2 separate regions of the Homo sapiens genome follow, and region 2 is linked to region 1. Evidence: fine-mapped expression QTL. A gene starts in region 1. The other region holds a variant in brackets. All regions are shown on one strand. Distances are from middle to middle. Region 1 holds the start of CFAP61 (cilia and flagella associated protein 61). Region 2 holds the start of LOC124904880 (a long non-coding RNA gene).

Region 1 (8,092 bases):
TCATCATGTAAATAAAATAAATACAGAAGATGTGGAACTTTGCTAGTCTATAAAAGGCTGTTTTGTTAGATCAGAAACTTACCAGAACTGATTAACTCGAGGCAGCGTTGTTATGGCCCGGTCCCAGATATTTCGAGCATGGTTGACTTGGCGATTCTTCATTTCCATTTCTGCGTATTTCAGCCAGAGTGTAATATTTCGGTAGTCTACATCTAAAGCACGCTCGTATATGGATCGAGCCCTTAAGAAGCAAGATTTGCAGGGCATCAAAAATAGAGCATTCAACACATGTAGCAGTTATTTCAAACTATCTGGAATGCACTGATGTTTTATTAGGTGTCTACCATGAGCCAAGTTCTGGGCATAAAAAAATGAAAAGATATAATGCTCTCAAGTACCTTACAAAGTCTTATAAAAAGACATGCATGCAATTATAATGCAATGTGATTTATGTTATAGTCAAGATCTGCACGGGAAACAGAGAGGAAGAAATGAAAATGTTTGGTGGAAAAGGCTAAGTAGTAGGTAATTGTAGAAATGAGAACTTGAGGAACGTTCCGATTTACCAGGAAACTAAGTTTGGTGAGGAGGGGGTGCTCATTCCAGGCAAGGAGAACAGTCAAGCCTCACGATAAGGAGACATGATATATTCAGGGAGTGGCACATACACAGGCACAGTGGGGGAAGGAGGTATGCGGGGAGAATGCAGAAAGCTAGACCACAGGAAGGGCCAGATTGCAATTTTTATTTTTTTTGGCCATTGGTTTTATTTTTTTTGGCCATTGTTTAGCTGAAATTTGTAAAAATCTCAATATATACAAAGCAAATGAAATTGTGCTTCTTTAGCTACAACTGACAAGATCTATCTCTAAAGCCTCTTCTGCCACCCTCCCCAGGACTATTCTACCCCAGTACTCCTGAGGCCCTCAAGGGAACCCTAGGGTTCCATGGAACCAAAGTTGAAAATTTCTACCCGAGGCACAATCTTTTACCTGTGCTTTAACTTTTTCTTCTTTTCTTTTTGGTATCTGTTAATCTATGAATCATTATATACAAAACTACACTCTCAGTAATTTTACCTTTGAATCTCCTTTAGGCTTTCTTCCCATTGTGCGTATTTTATCCAGTTACTAATCACAGTCCTGTTTTTTCTTATATTATCTTCAAAAGTCTGGAAGAAGGCAAAAAGGGTCAAGTCAAAAGACAAATGACTAAAAATGACAGCACCCTTGGTCTATTTTAAGTCTTGTACTAAAATGGTTATTCATTTTGTTCATATTTAAGAGAAATTACATCCTGGAATCCTTGAGGAATAAGAAACCCACTACAGAAGGTTACAGTCAACTAACTGATACTTTAAAATGGTCTATGCTTGTCCCTAATAAAAAATGTTTTTGACTATTACCTTTAAGTCCTCTGGTAATTCTCAGAATTTCATATATAACAGCATTAGTGCTTTAAAACAGTCCCACATTCTAGAGTGAAGAGGTCAAATCAGATCCCAAAGTCTTCTCATGGTCCTTTTGCAGACCTCAATTCCTTTTCCTTTCTTTCTTTCTTTCTTTTTTTTTTTTTGAGACAAAGTCTTGCTCTGTCGCCCAGGCTGGAGTGCAGTGGCACGATCTCGGCTCACTGCAGCCTCTGCCTCCCGAGTTGCTGTGATTCTCATGTCTCAGCCTCCCGAATAGCTGGGATTACAGGCACCTGCCACCACGCCTGGCTAATTTTTGTATTTTAGTAGAGATGGGGTTTCACCATGTTGGCTAGGCTGGTCTCAAACTCCTGACCTCAGGTGATCTGCCCGCCTCGGCCTCCCAAAGTGTTGGGATTACAGGCGCGAGCCACTGTGCCCAGCCAGATCTCAATTCTTAACACAGAAGGTGGTATAGACAGAAGTACACAGTGCAGCCTTACTAAGCATACCCTCCTTCTTGTTGTCAGTTGTTCCATCTGCTAAACTTCCGCTCACTTTGATTCAGCATCAAAAATTATGCAGATTCAATTTCTTTACACTTTAACCAGACAACTCATGGCATATTTTATATAGTTCAGAAAAATGCTGTTATCTGGTAACCAGAAGTACATTATTCATGCGTCTGGAAACACTTAACCTCATCTTGCCCTACAGAATCCAACCAATGAGGAGCTTTTCAAACTGACCGATACAGTCTTAACAATTAGTGGACTGAAAGATACCACACTGACTGACCTTCCTTTTCCTTAGTTTATAATCATTTAATTCTTCTTCATCTGTGATCTTCTGTTGAGGTGGAGGTGGAAGAAGCTCAAGTTCTCTTTCTTTAGCCTCTCTTAAGAGTTGTTCAGCAGTTATCTGTACCTCAGCCGGGGCTTTGTTTTTCACCTTTTAAGAAAGAAGACATTTCTATTTTTAGTAGTTGCTCTTCACACAAGGCTTAAGAAACAAACATACATTTTTTAGGATATGAACTTTGTTAGTATTATCACAAGATGCCCTTTTTGTATGACATGTTCCCATTCCTCCATGAGACTGAAAAGAAAAAAAAAATACCGTTTTCTCTCTTATTCATAGTATCTACTGCAAAGCCATAGGTAAAAGTCTCAAGAGAAAAAGGTGGCAAAAATAATAGCAAGTTTTCCCTTTTAGATGAGTATAATAATAAACTTTGAGGCCGTCTAGGTAAAATTCTGACCAGAGGTTTTGTTTTATCAAAATGTGTAGCACATCTTATTAACAGCATTACAACCTGCATTTACAGAATTCTTCAACTTATTTAATGCCCCGGTGTATAACTGGGTTTGGTTTTACATGGCACTTCAAGTCAAAGGCAATTTCAGTAAGTTCTCATCATTAGACTGTAAGCTTCTTGAGGTCTTAGAAGCTTACAGTCTAACGTAGCTTAGAGCTGTGCTGTCCAACACAGTAGCTATGAGTCACATGTGGTGAGTACAAATTGAGGTGGACTGTAAGTGTAAAATACACATTGGTTTTGAAGATGAAGTATAAAAAAGAATAAACTACCTCATTACATTTTTTATACCGATTACATGTTGAAATGATAATATTTTGGATACATTAGCTCAAATAAAATATATATTATCAAAATTAATTTCACTTTTTTGCTTTGTTTTTACTTTTTAATGTAGATATGAGAAAATTTAAAATTTCATATGTGGTGTGCATTATATTTCCATTGGACCAGTGATGCCCAATAAAAGTTTATGTAGCTGAATTATAAAAAATGTTACTTAATGCCACATGTGGAGTAATGATGATAATGGTGATAGCTCATATTTAATAAGCACTAAGTGCCAGACACAGTGTTACTTGCTCTATATGCATTACTCCTGCGAGTCAGACAAATAGTTATGTAAAGGTCCAGTTCAAGAGAGTCATCCGGGCTCAAGAAAGACTGGAGGGAGGGTATCTGTAAAGGCTTCAAAGTCTGCCACATATTAAGCACTTGGTAAGTATTAGCTATCAAAGGAAATACCAGATAGTAAGTCTACTGTTTAATTAACTTATGATACTATACTACTCCTACCGTCTACTCTCGCCCTCCGCTGTCAGCTGGGCTAACTCCTATTCAGCCTTCAAGTCTCAGCTTAAAGGTCATTTCCTCAGCAAAATTTACTTTCAGGACCCCTTCATACGACCCCCTTATTCACGCCCATGGCATATTCTACTTTGCCTCTCGGTAACATCTAGCAAGGTCGTCTTTATACAGAAACTCGTGTTTTGAGTACTGCTTGTGGCCAGCGTACGAGCGTAGCTTCCCAGCGCCCAGTGCAGTGCCTGGCTCAGTAAATCTTCACCGAACCACCCCACTCCACTCCCCAGCAAAACCACCCCAGAACGAAGGCCACGCCAACGCGGGTCGTGCTCCGCGATGACAAGAGCCCGCGCCCCACCACCAGCTGCCCTTCCTCTCCATCTCTCAGGGTGAGCCTTCTCCCCGGCGGGAACACTCTCTCCCAACCCGGGCACCCTCAGGGCTGAGGGATGCCCCTTTCCTAGGCCACCTCCTACAAGGCCCCTCGCGATCGCCTACCTTGGCCACTTTGGGAATCCGCTGCTTCCCGGCCGCGGTGGAGGCCGCCATGTCTGCAGCAGTCGACCTCTGGACACCTGTCCCCGGCACGGACGCTAGAAATCGGCTCTGAGAGCTCACCGAAACCACAAAGCTTTCAGAAAACAAACAGGATCTCGGAACCGGAAGCGGAACTTGCAGGACTGACCTTTGACCTCTCGCTTGAGCCGTGACGGAGGCGGCACCGTTTCCATGGTGACCAGGCTGCGCGTCCTCCTTGCGGCAGCGCGTGGAGTGCGGCGTCCTGGAGCTGCGGATGAGGTGGGTAACGCCGTGCTGACTAGCAGCGACGCAAGGACTGCGGTGCAGGGCGTCCAGGGCGCATCCCCAGGTCAGCCTCCGGAACTGGGATGACCAGGCGAGGACGAGTGGCTCTGTCGAGCCGTGGCGCCCTGCAAGGGAGTAAGAACGGAGCTCCAATCTGGATGCTCGAGGGCGGGGGAAGAAGGGAGAGCGAGGAAACTACCATTCCCAGCATGCGACGGGGCGAGCTGCCGCCCTTTTAGGCTGCAATGCCTCGAGCATTGCATTCTAGTAGTCTCTGGGTCCACGCCCCCTCGTTTCTGGTTTCGGGACAGTTGTGCCCAAATAATTCTAAGGTGCCCAAATAATTAACTCTAAGGCTTGGAATTAAAAATAACAGAAGGTACTTTGAAGCCAGATATTAGGAAAAAATATAAATAGAGTAACTGGAAAACAACTCAGTCTTGTGATAAGAAACATGTTTAAATTCTGTGTGTGCCTTAATTACTCTAGTTAAATTTTCTTAGCCTCAATGTCCTCAACTATAAAACAAGGCTAATAACATCTGTTTCACTAGGATTAAAGACAAATGCTCAGTAGATGTTAGCTGTTATAATACTTAACCTGCCCTCAAAAACTGAAAAGCAAAGGTTAAGAGAATTTTTTTTAATAGACATTTTTAGAGAAGTTTTAGGTTCACAACAAAATTAAGTGGAAGACACAGAGATTTCCTCCCTCCACAGCTTCCTGCTATCAATTATTGTACCTCTTCCCTCCTCTAACAGCCTCCAACTCTTAAAAATATCCTCCACCAGAGCAGTACATTTGTTACAATCTTGAACCTACATTGACACATCATTATCACCCAAAGTTCATAGTTTATATTAGGGTTCACTCTTGGTGTACATTCTATGAGGTTGGACAAATGTATAATGACATGACTTGGCAGCTCATTTGTTAGGATAATTTCCACAGTTGCAAAGCTCTTTTGGTGTTTGGGGAAAATATATATTTATGTATGTAGTAATATCACGTCTACCAATGCAGATATTACTTTCAACAAAAGATTTATGCAGATTTCTAGAACTGCAGTCAGTTATAACCAACATCAATGTATTTGCCATAACTCTTTATTAACCATATTATTTAGATATTTTATCTCACTTTTCAAAATTTAAATAGAGAAGATTTTATATCACTTTCATAAAGCCACCTAACAAAATAAATAAATATTAAAAAGATGTTTCTTTGAAGTGATTTTCCTTAAATGTGTTACTGTAAACAATTGATTTACCAAATGAATCATTGGTTTAATCATCTGTTGCCTTTGCTCAAAAGTACAAACATGCTAGAATACTTTGCTTCTGATCACCATCCTTCTCTCTTACATTTCTGTTGTCTGGCAATTCAGTTCATCTCTGTGTGTGTTTTTTTTGTTTGTTTTTTTTTTTTTTTTTTTTTAGGAAAAATGTATTATCCTTCTTACTTTTTGCCATCAATGCTTTTGTAGATATACCTTCATGTTTACCTTCTTATTTCCCAGCATTTAATCTTGTATTCCACTTCTTTCTGATTTTATTCTTCTCAGAATATACCATCTCCTAGTTCTTTCTACAAGATTCTTTGAATTCTTTCAGTCTTTGTATGAAATTGTCTTTATTTTATCTTCATTTTAAAGTGATTGTTTAGGTTTATCAGTCTAGGTTAATGGTTATTTTTTCCTTTTATATTTTTAAAACACTATTCTAGTAGTTAGAAAACTATGGGCCGTAGACTAAATTCAGCCCATTGACTATTTTGTATGGACTGTGAATGAGCTAGGGATATATATATATATATATACACACACACATACATACACATATACACACACACATTTTACATTAAACTTTATATGTAGTTTACATTTTAAACATTTTTTAAAAATTACATGGCACATGAAAATTATACATAAGTCAACTTTCAGTGTATGTAAGTAAAATTTTGTGGGAATACATTCATGCTCATTTGTGCCGATATTGTCTCTGGTTGTTACTGTGCTACAATGGCAGAGTTGACTAGTTGTGTAGACAACATGTGGCTCATAAAGCTTAATGTATTTATTCTCTGGCCTTTTACAGAAGTTTGCTAACCCCCGTGCTACTGGCTTCTAATGTTGCTCATGAGAAATATTCTGTCAGTCTAATTATTTTTTATAGACAGTCTGTCTTTTGTCAGGTTCCTTTAAAGTTTTCTGTTTGTCTTTAGGGTTTTGTAGTTTTACTATATATTTGGAGTTTATTTGTATTTTTTGCTCTGAACTGAAGGTTCATGTCTTTCATCCATGCTAAAAGTAATTAGCCATTATTTTCAAATGTTTCATTTATTCCTTTTGGAATTCCCATAAGACAGATGTTTTTCATTCTGTCTTACATGTGTCTTTACTGAATTCTGTATTTTCTGTTTCTATGTGCTTCTTTCTAGATAATTTGTTCATAAGTATCTTCCAGTTTATTTTCTTTATTCTTCTGTTTTTAACCCATCCTCTTAGTTTAAATTTTAATAACCACGTATTTCATTTTTTAAGTTTCTGTTCTTTTTTAAATAATGACCTGTTCTCTTCTCATGACTTTTGTTTCTCTTTCTATATTTCTTTATTATAAACATACTTAGTTTGTAGTCTGTTTCAGAGTCTATCATCTAAAGTTCTTGGTGACTCCCATAATACACAGATTGTGTGGACTAGAATGCCATACCCACTTTAGTCTAGAATTTGGACTTCTCAGCAGTATTTTTGCTTTATTTTCTACCTAGAGCTTTGTGTAGAGAAAGCTTGTCACTTTCTTGGGCTGGTGAGTTTAATTTTTCTAGCCCCCTCACTTACCGAGGGGCCCATCCAAAGTCCCAGGTAGATGCATGGTTTAATTTTTAATTCTCTGTTTGGAGTGAGGTCCATTCTATCCCCAAAACCTGTGTCAGATCGGCTCACATCATTGCCACCTGGTTGGAGAATTTCCCTCGCTCGCTTTCTTTCTTCTTTTCTTGTTTTCTTTTTACCAAAGTCAGTTATCTAATTAATTATACTTCCTTATTTTATTCAGAATTTTTATATACTTGTAGCATTAGTTTATGATATGTTTCACAAACAAGATGTCTCATTCCAATTTTGCTTTCAATTTAAAACCAGAACAAGGAATGACAATATTTATGGTTAGCTTCGATAGGAGTCTAGACATTATTAATTTCTCCTTCATTGTTTTCCCTGTTTTGAGCTCACTGGCTAGTATATAATAAAATGGCTTTCCCTATGAAGGAAAGAAGGGAGGGAAAGAGAGAAGAGAGACTTACAGAAATTGAGACAATGAGAGAGAAATTGAAATCATTTTGTGACCTACTGTTTTTGTCAACAGCATTTCCCAAAGTGTCCTTCTGGAACGTTAGGTTCTCCACTGTTGCCGTCATTAGAGATTCTCTTCCCAAAGAGTGTCGGAAAGGCTGGGTTATACAAAGAAAACAAGTTGCTTTATTATGGAACCTCTCAAAGATGTTAATGGGCCTGGTGGCCCTTCAGGAAGCCTATTGCGAGCATTTCCTACACTTAACCACAGAACTTTTTTGGTCTCAAAATATGTCTCAAGACTGCTGACCTTCAGGGCTCCAGTTTGGAGAACTCTATTAAGAACATAGGCAGCAGCTGTCAGTATTTCCCCAGTAACTCTTCACCACATGCCATCGTGGCCGATTAAATATAAGAGGACCCTGAATCCGTAAATAATTCCTTTCAATGTTTTTCCAATTCT
Region 2 (16,995 bases), 47 kb after region 1:
TGGTGAAACCCTATCTCTACTAAAAATACAAAAATTAGCTGGGCGTGGTGGTGCATGCCTATAGTCCCACCTACTCGGGAGGCTGAGGCAGGAGAATCGCTTGAACCCGGGAAGCAGAGGTTGCAATGAGCCGAGATCACGCCACTGCATTCCAGTCTGGCAACAGAGTGAGACTCCCTCTCAAAAAAAAAAAAAAAAAAAAAAAAGAAGGAAAGTTGATATCATGAGTGTTGCTCTAGCCCCGGCACTTAGAACAGGGTCTGGCACACAGTTGGTGCCCTGTTGAAGGAAAAAAATGAGTGAACGAACACTGAACTTCAGCCTTTCTATTAAACAGGGTGGAAGACCATGACGATCTCATGCCAATATTTATGCGCTATGACACAATTCTGAAGGAAACTTACGGTGAATACTTCCTGGCCGAACTAATAGAGGCCCAAGATGAAGAGAATCATGCTGTTGTGTGTGAGGTCAGTGACTGATTCATGTGGGAACACACTTAGTGAGAGGAAGGAGGGATGTGAGTGGTGTTGCTCTTGCGTTGCTGGGCACCCCTGGAGCTGCCATTGTCTCCCTGGCCACCCCGGCCCTCCCACTGCCCTTCCAGGTGGTGCACCAGGCCAGCTTCCTCCCCTGGGTTACTGGCTTTAGGTTGTCTTTTGCGAGGTCCTTCCAGATGCCCACGATGCTGTAGATTCTTGCCTTGTCCCTAGAGTGAGAGGGAATGGAAAAGACCCCCCAGGGGTGCGTAGGGGGATTTCTGAGGATCCCCAAATCTCAGACTTCAGAAGTCACAAACCAGCGTTCTGCTGGCAGATGGATTTTGTTTGAGTTGGAAAGGTATTTTTTTTAACTTTTTGTTTTGACATAGTTTCACACTTAAAGAAAGTTTATAACTACCCAGATTCCCCAAATGTTAACATCCAACCCCATTTGTTTTATCATTCTCTTGTTCAACCTTTCTAATTCCCTCTCTCTCTCTCTTTTTCTCTCTTGCTGGCTCTCTCTCTCTCTCTCATGTATATTCTGAACCATTTGAGAGTAAGTTGCATACATAATGCCCCTTTACCTGTAAGTATTTCAATGTATATTTCCTAAAAACAAGGACACTCTCTTAGATAACTGCAATACAATGATCAAAGCCAAGTAATTATGATTCCTGTAATTATTATTATTATTATTATTTTTTGAGATGGAGCCTTGCTCTGTCACCCAGACTGGAGTGCACTGTCATGATCTCGGCTCACTGCAACCTCCGCCTCTCGGGTTCAAGCAATTCTCCTGCCTCAGCCTCCCTAGTAGCTGGGATTACAGGTGTGCGCCACCACGCCCAGCTAACTTTTGTATTTTTAGTAGAGACGGGGTTTCACCATGTTGGCCAGGCTGACCTGAGGTGAACTCCTGACCTCAGGTGATCCGCCCGCCTTGGCCTCCCAAAGTGCTGGGATTACAGGCGTGAGCCACCGTGCCCAGCTAGTTCCTGCAATTCTTTTATCTAATCTACAGACTTCATTCAGATTTTTCTGACAGTCCCAGGAATGTCCTTTATGGCAGAGGTAATTCCAGGCCATTCATTGCATTCAGGTGCTCTGTTTCTTCAGCCTTTTTAAATCTGGAACAATTCTCCGATCCGTCTTTATCTTCCATGACAATTACAGTTTTGAATAGTACAGGTCAGTTATTTTGTAGAATGTCTCCATTTGGATTTGTACAATGTTTTCTCATGATTTGATTCAAGTTATATATGATTAAATATTTTTGAATTAGCAGCTATTGTAAAAATTATGAAAGTCTATGTAAAAATTGGAATTTCTAGCTTTTCTAAACAAATCAGAAGGCCCAGCCTATTGGGCCCAAAAGGCAGCCCACACCCTCTAATTCATGATTCTTCATCTACTCATTTCTCATTATTTGTTAAAACTGTAAGAGCTGTTTAAAGAATATTACTTTTCTTGAAACTTGGAATGAAAAGTTCTCTTACTTGGATGACATGAGCAGTTTGAGGCTTTGTTCTACATCAGTGGTTCTCAAACTTGGCATATATGCAGATCACCTGGGAGGCTTTTAACTATCCATACCATGCCAATGACTTGGATCCAGAATATATACAAAGAACTCTCACAACAATAGAAAAATAATCCACATAAAATGTGGGCAAATGATTCGAATAGACACTTTTAAAAAAAATGAATAAATAAAAGATACAACTGGCCAATAAGCACATGAAAAGACATTCAACATCATTAGTCATTAAGGAAAGGCAAATCAAAACCACACTAAGATACCACTTTACCTCTGCTAGGAGGGTTATAATAAAAAAGCAGGACAATAGCAGATGTTGGCAAGGATGTGGAGAAATTGGAAGCCTCATCCATTGCTGGTAGGAATATAAAATGCTGTGGCCATTTTGGAAAAAGTCTGGTATTTTCTCCAAAAGTTAAACATTTGACCCAGCAATTCCATACACAGAATTGAAAACACATGTCCACACAGAGATGTGTACGCAAATGTTCATAGCAGCATTATTCATAATAGCCAAAAAGTGGAGACAGCCCAAATGTCTATCTACTGATGAATAGATAAACAAGATGTGGTATATCCACACAAGGGAATAGTACCAGGAAATAAAAGAGAACGAAGCACTGATACATGCTACAGCGTGTATGAACCTTGAAAACATGATGCTAAAGAAAAGAAGTCAGTCATAAAGACCACGTATTGTATGATGGCATTTAGATGAAAGCCTAGAATAGACACTTCTGTAGAGACAGAAGGTAGATTAGTGACTGGAGGGAAAGGGGAAGGAGAAGTGACTAATATTGGGCATAGTCGTTGGTTGGTGGGGGGATGAAAATGTTCTGGGATTAGACAGTGGTGATGGGTGTACAATTTTGTGAATATATTAAAAACCATTGAATTGTGTATTTCTTTTTTTTTTTTTTTTTTGAGACAGAGTCTTGCTCTGTTGCCCAGGCTGGAGTGCAGTGATGTGATCTTGGCTGACTGCAACCTCCACCTCCCGGGTTCAAGTGATTCTCCTGCCTCAGCCTCCCAAGTAGCTGGGATTACATGCATGTGCCACCACACCAGGCTAATTTTTGTATTTTTAGTAGAGATGGGGTTTTGCCATGTTGACCAGGCTGGTCTCAAACTCTTGGCCTCAAGTGATCTGCCTCCCAAAGTGTTGGAATTACAGGTGTGAGCCACTGCACCAGGCATGAATTGTGTACTTCTTGAAGGGTTGTTTTTATGGTAGGTGAATTATATCAATTATATCCATTTTTAAAAATCCTGTTGCAGGGGTACACTCAGGCCAATTAAGTCAATCTTTTGGGGGTGAGACACAATCCATATATTTATTTTTAATTTTGGACACTCACTATGTTGCCCAGGCTTTTCTTAAACTGCAGTCCTCCTGCCTCAGCCTCCCAAAGTGCTACGGTTACAGGCATGAGCCACCATGCCTGACCTCAATCTGGATTTTTAAAGATCTCCCCAGATGATTCCAAGGTGCAGTCCAGGTGGTGAAACACTCATCTACATGAGGGTAAAACATACCTGGTGAGAATGACATGACTTTATAGAGATGTGGGTATTAGTTTCTGAAGGTGACAATTGGCCCCTGGAAATTAGATTCTGAAGTACTACATTGAAAGGATTTTTATTTATTTTTTAAATGTTTATTTTATTTTCTTATATTTAGGTTTTGGCATGGTTTCTCAAAGACCCGCTTTCACGTATTCTTGTTTAGCCATTAGCCCCAGGCTACCAGGCTAGCCATAGAAGGGAGGGTTGGAAGCATTTGGGCCCAGCAGTACCATTTGGAAAGCTTGTCTTTACACAACTAGACAGAAACTCCTGAGAAGTGAAATGATTCATACAGACCCCAATAAGGATTTTCATGACCAAACTTTACTTATCAGGTTTAATCAGGGTCTTTGTTTTTGGAAGGCTTTTAATTATTTGGTTCCAAGGTACTAGTTTTACTCTGAATCACTTGAGTCAGTGCTTTGTAGAGAAGCTGCAGTGACCTCTTCCCCCACGTTCTTTCTCTCTCTTGCCGTATGTTTCACACTTTCAGTGTGTGTAAACATCAGAGCAAAGCTGTAGGCTGAAAACTGCAGTTCCAACCCTGCAAGAATCCTTTGGTGTCTCGAAAGAGGCAGAGGGCATCCAGCCCCATCTCCTTCCAGAGGCCGTGCTGCCTCAAGCATCAGAGGCTTTGTGTTCTGTGGAGGGGAGACCACAGACCTCGATCTTAAAATGGAAGGGCAGAAACAAGACTGTGAGCCGGGATCTGGGAGGGGACGTCTAATCTGAAGTGAGCCATGTCTGATGTCTGAAGCCTTTTGGGGTTCAAGATCAATGCTGTTGCTACCCTTTTTCCTGCCTCCCTAGGGGGCTTTTAGGCAATGGTGTGCTGGAGCCAGCTTGCTCTGGCTCTCAAGGGCTGATTGTTAAATCCTCAGGAACTCTGCAAACTGCTTGTTAAACACAGCTATTATTAAAAATTAAATTATAGAAACCTACAGTGTAATAAATTATATTAAAACAAAGTTAATAAATACTTGAAATTCATCACCTTCCATTTTTTTTTACTATTCTCCATGTTCTTGAGGGTTTTTTTTTAAATGTCTGGGTCTCTATACAGTAGATATAAGAAATAATGGCTAGCTACTGCGCATTCCCTCCCAACTACATGTTTAGTGAGATCACACTGTTCACTTGACATTGACCATGATGACAGCGCTTACACCTCAGAAATCGGCAAATGCTACAGATCTGGGCTTTTCCCCCGCAAATGCTGATTAGGCATTTACAGGCACACGTTACTTTAAGGCAACCACTGTCAACCAGAGGAAACAGAAAGAAGTCCATCAAGTTTGTCTTTCTGAACAGCCATGGCAGTTCCAGGCCAGGCATGCAGCATGCCTGAGGGCAAGGCTGTGCCCTGTGGGAAACCCTTACTACTGAAAGGGTTTTTAGTTACAAGGACTTTCTTTGGCTTGATAGCTAGTTTGGAGGAGTTTGGGGCCATCACTTCATACAAGTTCCTTGTCATAACTGTACCCTGGCTTACCTTGACATCTGGTGTTTACTCCAAGCTGAGGTTTTAGGGAAGGGTAGTTGGAGGCCAGCGGCGGCTCCTAGTGACAGATGGGCAGAGCGTCTGCTTTGGCATCATCCAGGGTGTGGGCAGCAGTGGTCCGAGTAGGCACCACTGACCTGCAGGCAGGGAAAGCCTGCCAGGTCAGCCATGCGCTTGGCATCAGGAGGAGAGGATCAGAGCCAGCAGTGGTCACAATGAGGGCAAAACCCTCACAGTGGAATATTGTCACCCAAAAGGGATGGGTGGCTGTAGGGCTTTTTGGATGGAAGCATAAATGAGAAAATACACACGTTTCTGTAAATGGACCTGTTTGGGAAGACAAGGCCACAGTACACATAGTTTTCTAGCAATCTAAACCTTATGTGTCATGATGTAGATATTTACAGGACAAGCAAGAACAACAAAACCTTCAGTTTTGTTCTCCAGTATAAGATAATTGAAGACACTTGTGGTGAAAAGTACTTCTGTCACCAGGAAGATAGATAACAGCCAGCAATCAATGCCTTTCTGTTGTACAAGTTAAAAAGTCCATTAAATCCATTTTTTTTTCAGTGCATACACAAGAATACATTTGGATACTCCTGCAAATTCATATTTAAGAATAGTGTTTCTCAAATCGGTTATTTGAAAGAAACTCAAAGGAAAAAGCAGACACTTCCACAATATGTCCTTGCTCTGTTGTAGTCTGTAATTGTGAACTTTTGTAAATTGTTACAACCCTGGATGAATGATGGGAATATAACAGGTTGTAGAATTGGAGAACGTTAAATCTTTGTTCCTAATGGCAAAACATGTTTTTCTCATTTTCATCAGAATGTGTGATCCATGCCATTTGAAATCAAATTCCAAACACAATGAGCCATTAGTGTAATAGCTCATTACTAACAGCGGTCTTATAAATAATACATTCTTATCATACACATGCAGCTCGCTGTGAAGCCAGCAAAAGGTATTTCAGGCCATCGAAGTTTTGTTGCGCCAGCGCGGCTGTAGATTAGAAGGACATCTCCATGTGAACCAAGATGGATGCCAATTTTCCCTGCCGAGAGTCAGGCTGGCCGTCTCTTTCTGCACATATGGTAGATGGATTGGTTAATCAGCGTCTGCTGAGTCTTGGGCCTGAAATTACAGAGAAGCTAGACAACTGCGGCTATGCAGCCTTTGTTCACGAGTGCAAACAAGACAAACAATCACTTGTTATTTGGGAAAAAAATTAAAATGTTTATTTTGGACTTTTATTAAAGTGTCAATGGCTTTATAAAACAGCTGTGTAAATCCAGGCTTTTTCAGCAAGTATCATTTTAGGGGGCCTGTAAAGAAAGGAATATACATGAAAAAATTAATTTTTAAAAATTCCCCTCATATTTCAGTATTGAGAAGAAAATAGAGGAGGTCTCACTTTTATTTTGCAAACACGTTTGAGAACAAATGATTTTTAACTGGGAGACATATTCGAGAACAAATAGTAGTTTAATACCTATTTTTTTTTTTTTTTTTGGTGTCATTTAAAAAACTGAGTATTATTGTAGCCCGATTCTCTGTTTTAGGAGATTAAAGCATTTTCTCTGACTGGGCATTTATGGAAAGATGCTGCGTTCTTGGGAATAGAGAATGCCTGTGATTATTGAGTTCTGCTACTTTCTGAATGCAATGGTTATCTAAAAGTCTGAACACTTGAGAGATAGGACCCAGTAAATGCAGGTTTCTAATAAGAGCTATCAGAGTCTAATCAGTCAACCAGAATTTGCTTAAAATCTACTAATAATTATTTTATGTGAAATTTAAAGGACTATGTATTTTCTCTCTCTTTTTAAATTTTAAATACTTTCCTTGCAGAAAACAATGAAATACAGAATTACTTAAGGGATATATTAAGGAGTTTCAGTCACAGCCGTCTCTCCATGTGGAATATGATAGAATTAAAGTCTGTTGTTAATTTCTAATGTTTTGGTACCAATCAGGTACCTGGTACCCAACCAAGGTTCAGATCAGCTAGTTACTCATCTTCTCGCCTATGTATTACTCATCAAAGACTGAAAATCATGGGGACGACTGCAAGAGCTTCAGAACCAGGCATTTCAGGGTGATGGGAAGTTCAACATTTGCAGATCAGACCCACCTGGTGAACCAGCCTAGCCTGACTCAAGTTTACTTCACTGGAACATTTTCCACCAAACTTCCTTCCCTCATATCTCCTCCCTATCAGACTATCCAGTTAATAAATAAGTGACTTCAAGACAAATTGAAGAGTTTCTACCTGATAAGGAGCTAGGGACCGTGAACTTTCTCTGTACTGGGGGCTGATCAGATGGGCACTGGAACAATGACCTGTATTCCTGAGAAGTGTGCATGGCAGAGGGAAAGAAAGTAGACAGGAGCGCCAGGCTTATGGTGGGGTACAAACACAAGACACCAAATGGCAGAGGATATGGAGCAGGCAGGAGCATGGTCTGAGCAGAGGGCAAGTGTTCCAATGGTTGAAGGGTCAAGAACTCTGGCAATTTCCCTGTTACTTATGCACCACTAGGTGTGTCCCCAGTGGTCACTTATTGGGACATTTTTTGAGCATGTTTTATGTACTGAAGGAAGACACTTATTCCTCCCTTAAATCTCAAGGTGACTGCCAAACCACCAGCCGACCACATTCTGAGGGCTCTGGAGGTTTCCTGATGAGAATCATTTGACCTCTGATAAAGTAATGAAGTGTTTTGGACTGGGTGTGGTGGCTCATGCCTGTAATCCCAGCACTTTGGGAGGCCGAGGTGGGTGGATCACTTGAGGTCAGGAGTTCAAGACCAGCCTGGCCAACATGGTGAAACTCCGTCTCTACTAAAAATGCAAAAATTAGCTGGGTGTGGTGGCGGGCGCCTGCAGTCCCAGCTCTGCGGGAGGCTGGGGAGAAGAATTGCTTGAACTGAGGAGGCGGAGGTTGCGGTGAGCCAAGATACACCACTGCACTCCAGCCTGGGTGACAGAGCGAGACTTTGTCTCAAAAAAAAAAAAAAAAAAAGAATAATGAGGTGTTTTGGATATTTCAGGTGGAAGGCACAGCTGTTGGGTTCATGAGTGTGTGCTCAAGAGTGAACATGCAACTGCTGCATGAGTGCTTTGACTTGGGCCCTTTCCACGGACTCTGTTTCCCACATCCTGATGACGTTCTGGAATCACCACAAGACCTAAGTGTCCGAAGAAGTCAAGGTACAGTGGCTATCACAGGGACACACTGGGAAATTAAATCT[A/G]TGCTTTATACACATTGCGCTCTTCGCTAAGTGATGGAACTAGATAGGATGCTTTATATTTCCTTCCCCAGTTCCCCTTAAGGAGTAGTTCCCATGGTTGGTCACATCCTTGTGAAATACCTACAAGCACAGATAGTCACAGTGCAGGGGTGGAGTTAGACATAGTGGACTTGGGGCCTTAGGGCTCCCACATTCAGGATGCTCACTTCTTGAATGTTCATTGCTAGAGTACATGTAAGTTATGATGAAATAATTACTGGTGTTTCAGGTTTCACACACACACACACACACACACACACAACCAAATACAACAAGTGAATTTTTCAAATCAAGAACTCAGGAAATTTTTTATGCTTTTAAGTTTTAATCCCAACTTTCAGTGCTTCTGTTTTTGTCTTTGACAAATCATTATGTAGTATAGGTCTGTTGCAAGTAGTCATTTTTAACTTGCTTAAGTTACTTCTAGTTATATGAAATAATACCATCAATTTTAAAATATTGTCTGTATCAAGATTTTCACCACGTTCAATTAGGTAACCTCAAACTTTGATGTTTTAATTTAGTGAGGTCTTACTGTATCCATGGGTATCTTTGCGGTTACATATTTGGGTTCTTACAGAAGACAGATGCAGACAGGCAAGTTACCATGGGTACATCAATTCACTTCTCCAAAGCTGGATTTCTTCATTTGTAAAATGGGCATAATAGTAATACCTCCCACACGGGGGGGGGGTTGTGAAGTTTCACTGAGATAAGCCATGTAGAGTGCTTTGCACAGTCAACACTCAATAAATGTTGATCATCACCGTTAGCAATTATTTTTTCTTTGTGTCGGCCTTCCACCAACTTGAATCTTCCTAGGGTAAAATCAGGGTATTTCAAATTGCTATGCTTTCTCCTGTCTGAAAGATTACACCAAGATTGTTCAGAAATGGGGAAAGGAGCACTTGGCTGGTGGCAAAGGACTTGCCAATCTAGACAACAGAAGGCAGTGACTTGGCTAAGCTTATCCCCTGAATGCATAAACCCCGTGCACAGTGTCTAGACCTCATCTGAACATACACACTTATCACAGAGAACCTGCAAAGCCACAGATAGAGGAGTTTCCCTTTTGTGCTGATGATAACAACACCCTCCCCAAAAGAGATTTGGGGTCCTTATTGTTTAATAGTGAAGCCTTGCTTGCCATGCTTCCCAGAGAAGAACTCTACCATAGGAGAGTTCTGAGGGAACTTATCAGTGTGAGACAGTCTGGAACCATAAGTTGTCATTGTTATTTTCCAATGCTTAAATTCTTCTTTGAAAGCAGCACTAAATGGCCTTTTTTTTTTTTTGAGATGGAATTTAACTCTTGTCACCCAGGCTGGAGTGCAATGGTGTGATCTTGGCTCACTGCAACCTCTGCCTCCAGGGTTCAAGTGATTCTCCTGTCTCAGCCTCTGGAGTAGCTGGGATTACAGGTGTGCGCCACCACGCCCAGCTAATTTTTGTATTTTTAGTAGACACAGGGTTTCACCATGTTGGCCAGGCTGGTCTTGAACTCCTGACCTCAGGTGATTTACCTGCCTCAGCCTCCCAAAGTGCTGGGATTACAGGTGTGAGCCACTGCACTTGGCCCTAAATAGCCTTTTTATGGCTGAATATTCTCACATGTAAAATGGAGATAAAAATAGTATCTAACCCAAAGAATTGAGGGGACAATTAAATGTTAGAATCTATGTGTTGTGCTTAGCTCAGCGCCAAACACAAAGTAAGTCCTGAACATTTAAAAATATTTTTTCCCCTGTGGCTGTTGTAATGAAGAACAAGTTGAAAAGATGTAGTCCCTTCCAGTGTGTTTCTGAGTGGCTCTGATGCTACTGTTTCCTACATAGAATGAATGGAAAATTCCTTAGAAACTTTATGGGGCAGTGAAATTCAAAATTTAAACTGAACCCTGGACTTAAAAACATACGTAAGCTAGTATATCTCTAGCAAGAGCCCACAGAGATATGGGCACTAAAAGAAGTCCTACTTCTGTTTACCTCCTTCAATATTTTTACCTAAAATAAGTCAATCTAGGACAGATGGTAAGTAAAAGAAATAGGAAAACTTATCTTCTGTGCCTTGTTTATTTTTGAAAGTCAGCTTTATGTTCATTGACACAAAGATGATTCCTTATGAAATTTTCACCAGGGAGCTGGCATTGTAGACTTCCACATAACTTCCAGGGATTGAGTCACAAATCATCAACAGCTCATTATATCTAAGAAAAGAGTCATCAGCACATTTTGCTGCCATCTTCCTATCAACAACAACAAAGAATGAGGCTCCAGAGAAAATTCTAAATGTACTGTGATCTGTTACTTTCCTTTCCTGATGAAAGTCTCAAGTTAAAGGAAATATAATTTCTCTAAAATATGAACTAAAATTCTTGTTTCAAATGAGCACACATCACTGTGTCTCATATCTTGTATTTTGTTTAGTGCTTTTTTCCATTTCAAAGGATTTTTATATATGTAATCTCATGTTATCCTATAACTTGGTGTAGGAGAGCTAGGGAAGGTGAGGTTCTCTCCATTTTTTACTTGCTAAAGCTCATCCAAGCTTTTAAAGCTCATCAGTGGCTGACCCAGAAGGCAGACCCAGCCTCTCTCTGCTTTCGTGCATGATGATAGTCTTGGCAAGGTAACGTCTTATCTTGGATGGTTTTGACAGAAAACTCCAATGACGGGTCTGCTACACAAGATACATGATGAGTTTTTTCACTTTATTTTTATTTTTTATTTTTATTATTGTTATTTTTTTGAGATGAAGGCCCCCCTCTGTCACCCAGGTTGGAGTACAGTGGTGCAATCTCAGCTCATTGCAACCTCTGCCTCCCGGGTTCAGGTGAGTCTCCTGCCTCAGCCTCCCCAGTAGCTGAGATTACATGTGTGTGCCACCACACCCAGCTAATTTTTTTTGTATTTTTAGTAGAGACAGAGTTCATCATGTTGGCCAGGCTGGTCTTGAACTCCGGGCCTCAGGTGATCCGCCCACCTCGGCTTCCCAAAGTGCTGGGATTACAGGAGTAAGCCACCATGCCCGGCCAGTTTTTTCACTTTAATAAGTTATTTAATGAATGATCACTTCAGTGGGTGATCAGTGACCTGCCCATATCCCTCCGACTTTTATTTTGTATGTGTGTGCTCCAAACAACTCCTATCTGCTGGAATCTTCACCTCTGTGTCTGCAGGCTTTTTTAAAACTGTGAAAGGCCACTCTGACCTATGCAGGGGTCAGGCTGGAAGTGTCAGGAAATTATCACTCAAGGAATAGACTCTGTTTCCCTATGTCACATCCCAGCTTCCCTGCTGGTGCTTTCTCCATTGACTCCCAAATAAATGGTTGTAACTGAATCTTTAACTTAAGATTTGCCTCTGAGGCAAGTGAGACCAAGACACTACTAGTTAGGTCTTTTCCTACCAGCTGTGAAAGCATTTATTTATACACAGCTGACTTGGGTGAGAGTATAAATACCCCAGCTCCCTCACTCCTCAGGTGGGAGGACTCAGATATGTGAGTATTGGCTGGTTTCCCAGAGTTCCCCCAAGGGATTAAGTTTCAGTTGTCCATAATAGTAATCTGGGTGATAACACATGTGTTGTTGTTTTTTAACTTTTAAGTTCAGGGGTACATGAGAAGGTTTGTTACATAGGTAAACTTGTGTCATGTGGGTTTGTTGTACAGATTATGGCATCACCCAGGTATTAAGCCTAGTACCCATTAGTTACTTTTCCTGATCCTCTCCCTCCTCCCACCCTCCACCCTCAAAAGGCCCCAGTGTGTGTTGTTCCCCTTTATGTGTCCATGGACAACACACATTTTATTAGTTGCCTTTCCTTCCCTGTCTCTTTCCTCACTCTCCTACTGGTACATCCTGGAACCACCTCCAAAATAAACTGCTTATTCTCAAGCTCTTCTCTCAAGATCTGATCTTTCCCTGCCAGCTGTGAAAACTTGCAATTTCACACCAACCTCAACCCTTTCAAGCAGAATAATGTCAAGACTCAGCATTCTTAAATGAATCCAGAGGCCCTCCTTTTTCTAGCTCCTAATACACATGGTAATTAGCTTACTGTCCTTCATCATCTCAGCCTTATCAAAAGTTTCCCTGGAGGTCTGGCTGGTGTTAACAGAAAGGAGGGCAGAGCTGGTGTGGCTGACCATGGAGAAAGCTGACTTGGCTGGTGTGGTGCAGAGAAGCCAGCTTGTTTATGTGCTTATTCCATGACTGCTTGTCCTGAGCAGAAAGTGCTTTTCAGGATCTATTTTTGGAGGTTTATTAAGTATGTTCTCAATTCCAACAGTTTAATGAAGATCTAAATAAAATGCTAGGTTCTACCTTAAAAAAAAAGTTTCCCTGAATCTAAAATGTTTAACTGTGTACAATCAATTTGTGTTTTACCTGAATAATTTGTGTATGTTTTCATAGCTACCCATTTTGCATGTATAACCTATTACATACTTGTAAACTTTGGTTTTTATGTACTAAACATTGGGAGTAAACTGGGACCAATGGGAATAGGTTCTAAGGATGTAAATTTTGTCCAAGCATAAGGAAAAACTAGTAGAAGTGTATTTTTTTTATTTAATGGAGGACCTAGTGTGGAAGTAGCAAGTTCCCAGAATATTGGAAGAATTCATAAAGAAACAGTCATACACACTTACAAAGGGCTTTCTGCTTGTGTGGAAGATTATACTGAATGAGATGTAAGATCCCCTTAAATGCTAAAAAAAACTTATTGAATACATATCAAGATGTTCCATATGCCTGGCACTTTATGAATATTTTCCTTCAGTGACAATAAAATGGTTCAAAACAATATTTTTTCCAGTTGGCCGCAGCACTGGCCCTGCCTGGTGTTTGCAAATCAAGCTGTGTCTTTTGTTAGCTGCATCACCCAATAAATATTTTGGAATCAAGCTTGAGCTGGCAATTTTCTTGATAATGCATAAGGCAAAATAGGGCACAACCTGCATTTCCACAGCTGTACTGGCATTGCCGCATTTAATAGTTAAAATAAAAAAATAAAAACAAGCAAAAAACAAAACTTTTGTTCCTCATGTAGGCCGTTGAGATCTGGGCAGCATGAATCTCTGTTTTAAAAGACTCCTGCAAGGTTCCGATTTGTAAATCTCATTATATACCCAGGGCCCACCTTACAAAGTCTCTGCAGAACTTGATGTGCTCCTTGGCAGGGAGAGATTTCACTTTACATAATAGAGTTATGGGCATTCAAAAGAATAACTAGTGTAGCCCCTTGTCACCAAGTCATCCAGGAAAACTGTTGCTCACTATACATATAAAAGACCCTTCAAAATAGAATTTTTGTAATGTCTCCACGTAAAACATCGCAATATTGCCTTTAACTTTTTTTTTTTAAATTACTCCTGCTGTCAGGAAATGTCTTTATATGTCTTATTTCAATTTTATGTCTTGTTTTATTGAACTCACATTTGCTTCTTATCTCAGATTCCCTCATCTCTTGGGTTAGGAAACACCTAGACCCACTCTCCCTGTGTCGGAGCTAAAAAACAATGGCTACATTAAGTCTTATTGATTGTGTATTAAATCATCCCAGGTCTTTTCGCCTCTCTTCCTAAGGTTCCATTTTATATTCCTGGATTCCCTTCTATTTTACTTTATTCTTCTTTTAACATGGATTCCAAACAGGACTGGAGCACGTATCTACAGGGTGTGTTAGGATTTCTGCTGCCGTCTTTACATTACAGATCTCGGAACCTTGTTTTTAACAGTCAGTTCATTCTGTAGTTAACCAGTGACCCACCAGGACTTAGTCTGCCAGGGCTGCCATAACAAAGTGCCACAGACTGGGTGGCTTAAAAAACAGAAATTGATTTTCTCACATTTGTGAGGCCAGAAGTCAAGATGTTGGAGGGGTCAGTTTCTTTTGAGGCCTCCCTCCTTGACTTGTAGACGGCCATCTTCTCCCCATGTCTTCACAGGGTCTTCCCTCTGTGCCCATCAGTGTTTTTGGTTTTTCTTTTTATAAGGACACCAGTCACAATGCATTAGGGCTCACCTGTAACTTTAACTCAGTTACCTCTTTAAAGACTGTCTGCAAATACAGTCCCATTCTGAGGTACTAGGGGTTAAGCCTTCAGTGTACGAGTTTTGGGGGTGGGAGGAGGCACACTACAGCCCAGGAGAGGCTCTATGGTATCGTACTGCCTTCCTCTGGTCCCTAATAGGGGGGCGGTATGTGTTCAGGGTGGGGAATGTTTGGATGTCTACATCCTCTCATAAGCCCATGTTCTTCCCCTGGCTGGATGTAAGCCGCACCCACCCAACCTTCTGTGCCCGAGGAAAGTCCCTGTGTCCCACCAATGGGCTTCTCATTGTTCCTGGCATGGGTTTCAGATCCCCCTAGGAGAGGAGTTCTGTTCTTACAGGCTTCTGTGCCCTGGTCACCTCCACTTCCCAGGAGGCTAGGGTGAGTTCTGGGGCCCATTATAGCTCTCACTCAGTGGCCACACAGCAATATTACTCACTTGGTAGCAGTTGCCACCAAATTTGCCATTTTCTCATTGTGATCTGGGCTTTGAGCATCTCAGTTCTCCCTCCTCCCCTTTTCTTTCCTTCTCCTAGATCCTGTGGTGTGGTTCTTTGATGCCTGTACTCAAGGCTCTGATAGTAATGCAGACAGTGGCAGCAAAGTCGGCTTTACTTAATGTTCATACATAGCCCTAATATACTAACTTATACTTGTTAAAATTTGAATTATTTATTTATTTATTTTTATTGTTTTGAGACGGAGTCTCGCTCTGTCGCCCAGGCTGGAGTGCAGTGGTGCAATCTCGGCTCACTGAAAGCTCCGCCTCCCAGGTTCACACCATTCTCCTGCCTCAGCCTCCCGAGTAGCTGGGACTACAGGCGCCTGCCACCATGCCCGGCTAATTTTTTTGAGTTTTTTTTTTTTAGTAGAGATGGGGTTTCACTGTGTTAGCCAGGATGGTCTCGATCTCCTGACCTTGTGATCCGCCCACCTCAGCCTCCCAAAGTGCTGGGATTACAGGCATGATGAATTTCATTTTTTTAAGCCACTGAATGTCTTTAGCATATGAAGGCAACATCTTCGAAAGCTTTAGCTACTCTTGCCTATATATATATATATATATATATATATATATATATATATATATATATATAAAATTTGATTTTCTAGAATCTACTTTGTTAATTCTAAAGCTTTGCAAGAGATGTTGATAAAACAAATAAATCATACCAGACCTATACCCAGGCATCTCCAATGTTGAGAGTTTAGACTCTTTCAGGGCTTTCAGGGCAGAGCCCCTGGACTGGTAGGATACCAGGAAGACTGTAATCCAGACCTGAAGCCCAGAACTTGTTGTCAGGGACATGACCCCAAAGCCATCTTGGTGAGCCTTTTGGTTATTTCATAAAACCTGTTGTCAATTCTCCATCTTAATTCCAAAGCTGATTTCTAAGCCTTTTCTAATGTCTTCAAAAACAACCATAGCATCAAAGGATGGCAACCACTTAAGAATCTATTATTTTGCAGACAGCAACATGACTGAGATCTGCATTCCTCCTTTCCTCTTCAGCCCTGGGAGCGACCTGTGATATCACAGCCTTGTTCTCCAACAGTCAGATTCATTTCACAATGGTGGAAATACAAGCGCATTTTTGTATGGGGCCTGGAGGTCTTCAGAAGAAAAGTGGCTTTATTTATATTCGTTATGATCATTATGTGCTGGGATTATTTTCTCAGTAGGGGATGTCTCTTTTGCCCATATTTATGAAGCAGGGGAGAAGGCATTTAATGAAGTTCAAGAGTGTATTTGACTGTAAAACACATCTCAGTACATTCACATGTAAATAACCCTTTTATTTGTTCTCTCTGGTGACCTTTTTCCTGTTGGGGTAGATCACAGTTTGTTGTTGTTTTCCATTTTCAGATGGAAGGCTGAAAGATAATAACGAAAGATTATGCAAAAAAAATCCGTGTTTAAAATAATGTTGATATGCCACTTGTGTTGCAGGATAATTATAGTAATTTGGCTATTACGCTATATGGAGTCAGCAGTTAGTTGCTAGAAAACACGGTGATAGGGGTGATTCAAGGGATTTTCATCCCAACTGGGTGTTTGATCCTGCTGACTTTTCTCTTGAAAATCAATTGCTTGCACTGAATACTTTGAATTCCCCCTTGATTAAATTGGCCATCAGTGGGTCACACCCATTGCACTGAGGTCACTGTGAGTTCTGTTTACAAAGAGTTTTTGATGATTCTTAAAATATCATGGACCAAATTTAATCTGAGCCAAGCGGCTAAGGAAGCAATTACTGAAAAGCACAGTTTTTGCACATGGCAACAAACAAAGGAAAATTTATTAATTCTGAAGCTCAACATGAAGCCAGTTATTTGACTACTGGGTCAGAGGCCTTCTCTCCACTGCATTTTGCTTGGACTTTCGGTATTTTCAGACCTCCATGGACAGATAGGCTCACTCAGTAGAAGACCTGGTAGAGGCATCTTGGAAGCATCTTTGACAACTTTTCCATTTCTCCTCAAGGTAGTTAATAGATTCAGGTTTTCTATTTCCTTTGAATCAATTTTGGAAATAAGATTATTCTAG

The links. PIP is the estimated chance that this variant, and not a neighbour inherited with it, causes the effect. A credible set is the group of variants that fine-mapping cannot tell apart.
Region 2: its variant is the best candidate, but not a certain one, in a credible set for the expression of CFAP61 in prefrontal cortex (GTEx, PIP 0.89).

Annotation. Positions count from the first base shown.
Region 1 is chr20:20,048,261-20,056,352 of GRCh38, forward strand. It overlaps CFAP61 (cilia and flagella associated protein 61), which reads left to right and starts at 4,272. Exons shown (of 27, transcript NM_015585.4): 1 at 4,272-4,331. It overlaps CRNKL1 (crooked neck pre-mRNA splicing factor 1), which reads right to left and starts at 4,206. Exons shown (of 14, transcript NM_001278628.2): 1 at 4,032-4,206; 2 at 2,210-2,362; 3 at 1,080-1,171; 4 at 83-241. The coding sequence starts at 4,082. RefSeq lists enhancers at 4,061-4,230, 4,241-4,540 and a silencer at 4,631-4,680.
Region 2 is chr20:20,090,507-20,107,501 of GRCh38, forward strand. CFAP61 (cilia and flagella associated protein 61) reads left to right here. Exons shown (of 27, transcript NM_015585.4): 7 at 338-470; 8 at 8,149-8,308. It overlaps LOC124904880 (a long non-coding RNA gene), which reads right to left and starts at 5,249. Exons shown (of 2, transcript XR_007067553.1): 1 at 5,081-5,249; 2 at 3,938-4,257. RefSeq lists an enhancer at 15,676-16,240. The variant A/G (reference allele first, on the strand shown) is at 8,350.